Linked DNA regions of Homo sapiens: region 1 is linked to region 2. Evidence: fine-mapped expression QTL. A gene starts in region 2. The other region holds a variant in brackets. All regions are shown on one strand. Distances are from middle to middle.

Region 1 (4,399 bases), 30 kb after region 2:
TTTGAGCCCAGGAGTTCCATACCAGCCTCAATAGCGAGACCTTGTCTCTACAAAAAAATAAAAATAAAAAAATTAGCTGGGCATTGTGGCATGCCTCTGTAGTCCCAGCTACTTGGGAGGCTGAGGTGGGAGGATTGTTTAAATCCAGGAGATGGAGGCCACAGTGAGCTGTGATTGTACCATTGCACTCCACTCTGGAAGAGACCCTGTCTGGAAAAAAACAATAATAATAATAATAAAGAAAGTAAAATCCAATTCTGTCACACTGAGAAACCTTTTATTATTTGGAACCCATATGCCAACAGGCCCTCAGTAAATGAAGCATGGTCAGTGGAGGTGGGGTTCTGCAACATTATGAGTTTCTTGCTAAATGAAGTCAAGTCTCTCTTCCTCTTTCTCTCACACACACACATCCATGCACACTCTGCACATACGGAAGACCTGTTGTTTGAAAAGTTAAGTTAGTGTTTGAAAAGTATATCATTTGTTTTTAATTTGTTGCATGAATTTTTGTGTTCATTTGGCAAGATAAATTTTACTACCAGTTATCTAGATGAGAGGGAGTCAACTTTGAACCCTCATTTGATGCCTAACCTCGGCATCAAGAGAAAAAATCTATCCTAAACTCAGTTCATATGTACATTTCTATATTTTTCTTTTCTCTTGCTGCATTCCATTTTATTTACCAACACAGAAGCAGAAGGTTGTAGTTTCTCTATTTCCTTTTTCTGATAAACACCTCAAAAGCATATAGTAATTTCCTCCATTTTTATCTGGCCCGTGCTTTTCTTAAACACATGTAATCTGTTCTTCCCTCCCTCCCCCACTGTTCTAAAATTGCTTTCCCTGAGGTCCTTGGTGGCCTTGTAATTTATATTTGCAAAGACCTTTCTCAGCCTTCACTTAACATTTTCGCATTGACTGTGCTGAACACTTCTTAGGATCCTCTCTATTCTTGGCCCCTGTTCTGGCCCTCTTCAATTGTTACTCTCCTCCTCTAAGCTGGTTTTACTTTCTCCTCTGTCTTCTAGATAGAGGTGATACAAAAACATGATCTTAGTTTTTCTGATCTTTTATTTTTAATTCTCTTAATTAGAATTTTCTTCCACCTTCATAGCTTCAACTATCACCTTCTCATAAAAGACACTCAAGTGTATATTTCCTGTACTAAGATGCTTCTAGTTGCTTACTGGGTGTCTAGTTCCTTCCAAACATTTACCATTGAAACTGAGTCCATCACCTTTCCCCAAAATCCATCTTTCCCTTTGAATTCTCCACAAATAAACTGTACCGCTCATTTAATTCTGAAGATATTATCTTTTGTATTATTTATTTAATTCTTTCATTTGTTGTTACCATATTTAAACAGTAATTATTTTGAGGGAAAGAATCGTATTTTCTACATCTCTATATTCCTGTATTCCTGATGATTCTTATCCAGCATTCTTTTTTTTTTTTTTTTTTTTTTTTTTTTTGTGATAGAGTCTTGCTCTGTTGAGTCTTGCTCTGTTGTCCAGGCTTAAGTGCAGTGGTGGCACCATCATAACTCACCACACCCTCAACTTCTGGGATCAAGCAATTCTCCCACTTCAGCTTCCCGAGTGACTGAGACTACAGGCATGTGCCACCATGCCCAGCTAATTTTTAAAAACTTTTTTGTAGAGACAGGTTCTTGCTCTTGCCCAGGCTGGTCTCAAACTCCTAAGTTCAAGTGATCCTCCCACCCCAGCCTCACAAAGCACTGGGACTACAGGCATGAGCCTCTGCACCCAGCCGCCTATGCAGTGTTCAATAAATGATTTTTATTAAGACGTTTCACCTAAGTTCCTAATATTTTGCATATACTTCTCACTGTGGTAATTTTTGAAAGGGTTGACAGATTTTGATGAAAATGAATAGATATGAAGTGTAATTTTGGTTCAGACCACCGTCTTGAGACAAAATAGTAGCTACTAAATGTACTGACAGGAGAATTTCTGTAACTTATTAACAGTGGATTCCGTACAATTTTATATACCTCTGCAACTGAATGTGTTCTGCTATTCAGAACTTCTGAAAGAGGAAGTTACCAGCCAAAGAAATTATGAGGCAAGTTGAAGGATCTAGTTAGGTTAGACTAAGCAGACACTCAAATGAGAGGGAAGGCAGAGCTAAAACTTCAAGACTGGGTTTCTCTACCTCATCTGGGAGAATACTGACAACAGGGCATATAAATTTTTGTCTTTTTGCCCAAAATATGAGGTACTGGGCTAGGTGCGGTGGCTCATACCTGTAATCCCAGCACTTTGGGAGGCTGAGGGGGGCAGATAACTTGAAGTCAGGAGTTCAAGACCAGCTTTGCCAACATGGTGAAACCCTGTCTCTACTAAAATTACAAAAAAATTAGCTGGGTGTGGTGGCGCATGCCTGTAATCCCA[C/G]CTACTTGGGAGGCTGAAGCACAAGAATCACTTGAACCTAGGAGGCGGAGGGTGCAGTGAGTTGAGATCTTGCCACTGCACTCCAGCCTGGGCGACAGAGTGAGACTCTGTCTTAAAAACAAAATAAAATAAATAAAAAGGTAATTTTTCCAATGTCAAAGGAGACTAGAAAAAGTTTTTGAAGAATGGTGTCTGCCCCTACTTTGTGTGGCGGGGTGAAATACCACTATTTCACCAAGGGTAACCTGCGCCTCCTAAAACTTTTATTTCTCCCAAGACTAAGTTTACAGATTCTTAGAATTAATGAGTTGAAAAAGACTTGACCATCTAGTTCAAATCCCTCGTTCAGAGACATGCCACATGCTTCTTAATCCTGGTTGTATGTTAGGTTTTCTAATCTTGCCTCTGGGCCTTATCTCTGAAGTCCTCACTCTGCACTGGCCCTAGAGTTTGAGTAATGCCATCCAAATGTAGGTATTGCTATTATATTAAAAATAACACTTTGCCTTGTTCATATTTAATGAATTTTCCTATGAAAGATAGATTCATGTATCACTTTTCAGATATTTAACATCTGAAATTAAAAAAAAAATTAGCCCTAATGAACATTTTCTACAATACATGGATCAAGAGTAGAGAGGAAATATTGGTCTCCACATCTCCCCTTTCCACTCCCCCAACACCAAATCCACTGTCTATAGGCATTTACACATTCCTTCTGTGATTGGATGATTCTGCCTTTTTCAAGGCTGAAAAATTCAAGTCAATTGACTCTCACAGATTTGAAGTTTTCTGCTGTGGTGTAAAAAATACATCCATATTTCAATTGTTTTCACTTTAATTTATCAGTTGGCCACAATATATATAAAACAGAATTGCCTGGTGCTCAGAATGAAGTACCAAGTGATTCAAATATTGACTATTCTACTCAATTTCAATATAAACTTAAGCAAGTCACACACTTGTCCACTTATCCAGTAGATGAAACCGCAAAGGAGGAGAGTTTATCTGAAAAGTTCTTCTCTGGAGAAAGATACTTAGAAAATACAAATGGTCCTTACTAAAGACCCCAGCTCATCCCAGGAAGATCTGAGGAAAAGATGAGCAGACCCAATGCTACTTCAGCTCACCTTTCTTAGCAGTCTTTTTTTTAAAAGCTCTGTTTTAATTGAACACTATGTTCCTGAGTCAGAAGAGTGCTTCAGTAAATCTGCCTTCCTGGGGCACAACGAATCACACACAGTCACACTTTCAGAAAGGCGAATCCTGCCAAACGTTGGCTGGACAAAAGATGGCTTTTTTTCTCCTCCAGCAAAAATTACTCAAATTGCTTGAGAAAGAAACACAGTATGTTTATCCCTGTTTACAGATATTTAGCTAGTGCCCCTTCAGAGGGTCATGTTCCTATAAACAGCATCATGATAATTATATCCACTGCTGCAAAGAACAGATGTGTAAATTGGTGGTTTCTTGGGGGAAAATAATACCAAGTCCATTTTCCAGAAATGTACACAGTACAGTGCAGCTGTAACATTCTGTGCAGAGGTCTCATTACTGTCTATTACTGAGTGAGGTGATTTTTAAAGAATATGGAAATTCACGGGGGGCATCTAGCAGGGAAGTCCAGAGACACCTAGGAAATGATTCAGATGGTTTGGTATATTTAAAAATTTCTAGTGATACTGGGCAAATCTCCACATCTAAAGAAAGTAGTAATAAATCTTTGATTATAAAGTTTTCCAGGCAAGAAATATGTATGAGTAGAGGGTAGGATTAGGAAACTTCTCATGCCCCACACACCTCTGAGATCTGTGTAACTTAGGTATAGACTAAACTTTAGTGAGGCCAGGTTGCATCAAGGTGGTCAAATTTTCGATCTGTGAACACCAGAATATTTCTAAACTCATTGCTGAAGGGTCTGGCAGGGATCAGGGTTCCTGAAACTAGAGTCAATGGTTCCTTATTTAAAAAGCCAATGTTAC
Region 2 (4,399 bases):
AATGGGATTACTACTTGTGCCTACCTCATTTTGAGTATTAGATAAAATAATGCATGTAAACTGATGAGGAAGCTGATTCTGAGCTGGGTGGTTTCACATATTTAGTCACAAAGTTCATCAATGCTTGTGCCCAGTTTTAAGCCCTAGCTTGTTTAACTTCATTATGCCACTTTGTTTCCAAGGTTCCTTCCCATATATAAAGGGGGAAAAATATAAATGGGATGGCTGAGGTGAGTACATCGAAAGGGAAAGGAATTAGTCCCACTCTTTAAGTTTGGCCACATAGTTAATGAAATGGTCTTATCAATGGAGTTATCCTGTTTAAACACCAAAAGGTGCAATTTCTTCTCCATCATCCCCAATCCCCACATTCTCTGCCTCCTCCCTTCATTGCTCTTTAGCCACTAGCAGGCTAGGTAGGGTGTTCCTAATCTGCAACCGGAATGTTTCTGGTAGGAGCCATTTCTCACCCACTCTTTGTCCTCTTTTATCACTTAAAATCACGGAAGGCTGTTCTGAAAGCGGCTGGGCTCCTTGTAACATTAAAAAATTATTAAACTCAGAAACTAATTCTGTTTTTTAATCATAAATATGAAAACTAGGAAGCAAACTGAGAAGAATGAAAGACCAAATCAGCGGATCTGAAGCAGGCCACTCTCAGGAAGACTCCTGAGGAATAATTAAGGCTAATTTTAAATATCACCTCCTGGGTATCATCATCACCATCGTTCCCAGGTACCTGTCTGAGATAGTCCATTTTGAAATAGATATACCTTAAATTATGTTAAAATGTACTAAGCACTTATTGAGCTCAGTGATCCTGAAATATGCCTAACAATAAGCTGCCTAGTTGCCACTTATTAGCTAGGTTTATGTCTAGGAGGTCTAGGAGGGACTATGAAGAATATGAGCTGTTTAATTAGGGGTACTTGTCATCACTAATGAACAACAAGAAATAGTTTGAAAACTTCTTTGAGATATTCACTTGCAAATGTCACCCGAATTTCAGAAAAGTACAGTCTCTGGAGTAAAGCTATTATACACTCAGAGAGACTGTTGTGCTTTGCATGCGTTATATCATTTAGTCCTCAAAACATGTTGTCAAGATTGGCATTATTATCTCCATTTTAAAGATGAGAAAATTAGGTGCAAAGAGCTTCAGTAACACACTCAAACTCATTCAACAATAAATAACTAAAAATTGTGCTATACACACTTTAAGAGTCACATGTTCCTCCCCCAAAATTATGAAAGGCCATAGAAGGAATTCAAGAAGTAGGCTTCATGACTTATCGTTTCTTCTCATCTCAGATGAATTCACTTTAATCTCTCATGCCCAAATTGTAAAATATCATTTTGATCACCGTCAATATTACACAGACCTGTTTGAATGTGCTCAGCTTTTTCAGTAAAATTAGAAGAAACCACAATTTACAAACAGGTATATGTGCATTAAGGAAAAAACAAAAAACTACCATGTGATTTTAGATATGGATGCCAATTCTTAAACATTGTTTATTATTTCTGAGCTCAAGTGCTTAGAATGTTTAAAATGCAATATATTTATGTGGATTTTTTTCCAGGATATTGGAACATATATAAAATATGCTTGTGCATATCTAAGCTTTGTATTTATTTCAGGTTATATGTATACTGAGAAGAATATATAAACAGTGTATGATATTTACATGTTATTTCATTTTTTGAGGGAAATTAACCTCCACAATTATTAACTATGCATAAAATGTAATGGCAGATATGACTTATATTGTATAGGACTGACTACAATTCCTCTTTAGAAATAGCTGTTCTTTGCTTTTATAATACTAGGAAAAGAGGAAAAGAGTTCTTAAAGAAATACAAGGATTCCTCAAGCCCCTCTTCCCTAAAACATGCTCTATCATATCTCCTGGATTGACTGGAATATCCTTCTCTGCCCCCACCCCATCACCCTCTCAATGCAGTGGAAAAGTCGGTGGGTAATTGGGTCCAGATTGGAGGTGTTTAAATATTCATGAGGCTGGCAGGGGACTGGGAGGGGGCGACTGTCTAGAATGGGGGTAGGGGCTGGGGGAAGTGATTAGTCACTGAAGGCTAGAGAACAATTCCGAGAAAGAGACGGAGAGAGAGGGAAGAAAAAGACAGATAGATAGATATTGGGGGGAAGGAGAAAAAAGGAGAAGAGAGGGAAGAGAGGACAGCGGAGAGAGAGCACCAGAGAGAGAGGGAGAGAGAGAGAGAGCGCTAGAGAGAGGGAGCGAGCATGTGCGATGAGCAATAGCTGTGGACCTTACAGTTGCTGCTAACTGCCCTGGTGTGTGTGAGGGAGAGAGAGGGAGGGAGGGAGAGAGAGCGCGCTAGCGCGAGAGAGCGAGTGAGCAAGCGAGCAGAAAAGAGGTGGAGAGGGGGGGAATAAGAAAGAGAGAGAAGGAAAGGAGAGAAGGCAGGAAGAAGGCAAGGGACGAGACAACCATGCTGTGCTGTATGAGAAGAACCAAACAGGTAGAGCTAAAGATTTTTTACTTCTTGCTGTTGTGAAATAACCCGAGTACAGTATTTCCCCGTAAAGGCAAACAATTTTTTTACTGCTTCTGCTCTGGCCGTGGTGCTCGCGCTTCCTTAGCATATGGTAACTGATGGTTGCATCCCAGCTTTTATTCTTTTCTGTCTTTCATGCTCTGGTTTTGGAATGCTGCTACTAATTAGGGTGAGGGTAGAAAAAACATGCCTGTTTGGCTAGAAATAATTTTTTTTTTTCTTATTAGTGAATGCTCAGCATTTGAGGTCTCTGGTCTTGAGGGTGTGGACGTAGAAAGGGGTGTGGGGGAGATGATGTGGGCTCTACCTACAAGATGGGGAGGCATTTCTTTATATTATTTGCAAAAAAGCAGGGTTGAGGAAATAATATTCAGAACTGAGTATTGCCTCTCTGTCATACAATTTTCTCACATGTGCTGCGGAAGATGCCTTATTTCGTGCATGCATGAGCTTCGAAGGGGCGCAGGTATTTATGGAAAAACGTGCAGGTCTTATTTATTTAGTATTTATTTTTCAATGAATGAATGAAACTGTGATTTGATAGATTTTTTTTTTTTTTAAGAGAAGCTAAGACAACTGGGGCTGGGGGAGAAATTGGCCATGCAGAAGGAGAAAATCCCCTTCCTAAGATCAGCAGCCGATTGTGCACCAGCTGGTCGGAGGAGAGGGTGGACCACGCCCCTAGGAGCTCCGATGGGATGGGAAAGACAGCCGGGTATTACCTGTTGGAAACCAGGTCTTTTCTCTTATCCCCTTCCCTTGCTTCTTTCCTGGGATTGTCAGTGACCAGAGACAGGCTAACATCCTGGATAATAAGTATGGTGACTCATTTTCATCAGGAAGAGGGACACATCCAAGATTAGCAAGAATCAGAGCCCCTCCTTCCCTCCCCCACTGCCCAGGTTTTACAGCCATTTCCAATTGCTCGCTTATTTCTTGAAAGACATTTTAGAAACTTGATTGGGGTGAGAGTGGGAAGGAATGACGAGTGTGGTATTCCGCAGCAACCGACCATGCCATGGCAGTCTCCAAAAGAAGCTTTCAAACATTTGTTGGAATGCATTTGAGTGATTTTGGCAAAGGTTAAAGAGAAAAATGGGTGTGGGATACGGGTGAGTGTGTGCGTATGCTTGACTGTGGTGGGGGTGGGGGTGTGGTGGGGGCAATCTTGGTCAAAGAAGCCCTTCGCAGACTGATTGCCTTAGGGGTGGGGTGCAAGAGATGGAATTTGGGTATAATTTCCAGTGCAGGTATTGGAAATTGGGCAATTTGTAATACACTCCCTGAATCCGAAGGGGGTGGAAGAGAGTGGAGAAGAAACAGCCTGCCAGCTTAGCACATTTAGCCAGCGCCCTGGAAGGAAGGGTGGGGAGTGAGGATGAAGGAGAAGGAGCAGGAAGAGGATGGGAGACTGAAGCAGAATGTCAGAGCAGTGGGAGTAGAGATTTGGCATAAATAAATAAATAAATAAATAAGCAGACATCCTGGATTGTGTGGGGCTATTTGGGGGAAAAAGTCGGATAGTGGGGGATTGAGTTGGGGGCGGTATTTGCAGCATCTCCTGAAACTGCCCTATGGTTACAGAGATTGATGCTTCCATTGGCTCATTTTATCAAACCAGGGCATTTTCTCTCTGTGTCCTCCTTCATTTTAATATATAAATGTAATAAATACAGGTGTCTGGGTTAAGAACACTGTCAAAGAAAAGTCCTGAGGTTATTTCACTGGTGAGCTGGGGAAATAACATTTAGGAAGGTGGAGCACTAAGTAAGCCAAAGCCATCCACTTAAAAAGCTTTAATTTTGGAAAGAAAAATATTCAGGTTCATAATTTGTTCCCACCCTATGTGTACATATGCAAG

Alleles and levels. Alleles are on the strand shown, and positions count from the first base shown. SD is a standard deviation of normalised expression in the study named.
As copies of G replace C in region 1, the expression in lymphoblastoid cells of the gene that starts at base 2,293 in region 2 goes down (small effect, 0.37 SD a copy in TwinsUK).

The links. PIP is the estimated chance that this variant, and not a neighbour inherited with it, causes the effect.
Region 1: its variant is the best candidate, but not a certain one, in a credible set for the expression of GAP43 in lymphoblastoid cells (TwinsUK, PIP 0.55).

Annotation. Positions count from the first base shown.
Region 1 is chr3:115,650,911-115,655,309 of GRCh38, forward strand. The region is part of intron 1 of GAP43 (growth associated protein 43); the gene reads left to right. Among named protein-coding and RNA genes, the nearest start is that of GAP43, 30 kb to the left of the region's middle. RefSeq lists a silencer at 281-390. The variant C/G (reference allele first, on the strand shown) is at 2,418.
Region 2 is chr3:115,621,218-115,625,616 of GRCh38, forward strand. It overlaps GAP43 (growth associated protein 43), which reads left to right and starts at 2,293. Exons shown (of 3, transcript NM_002045.4): 1 at 2,293-2,502. The coding sequence starts at 2,473.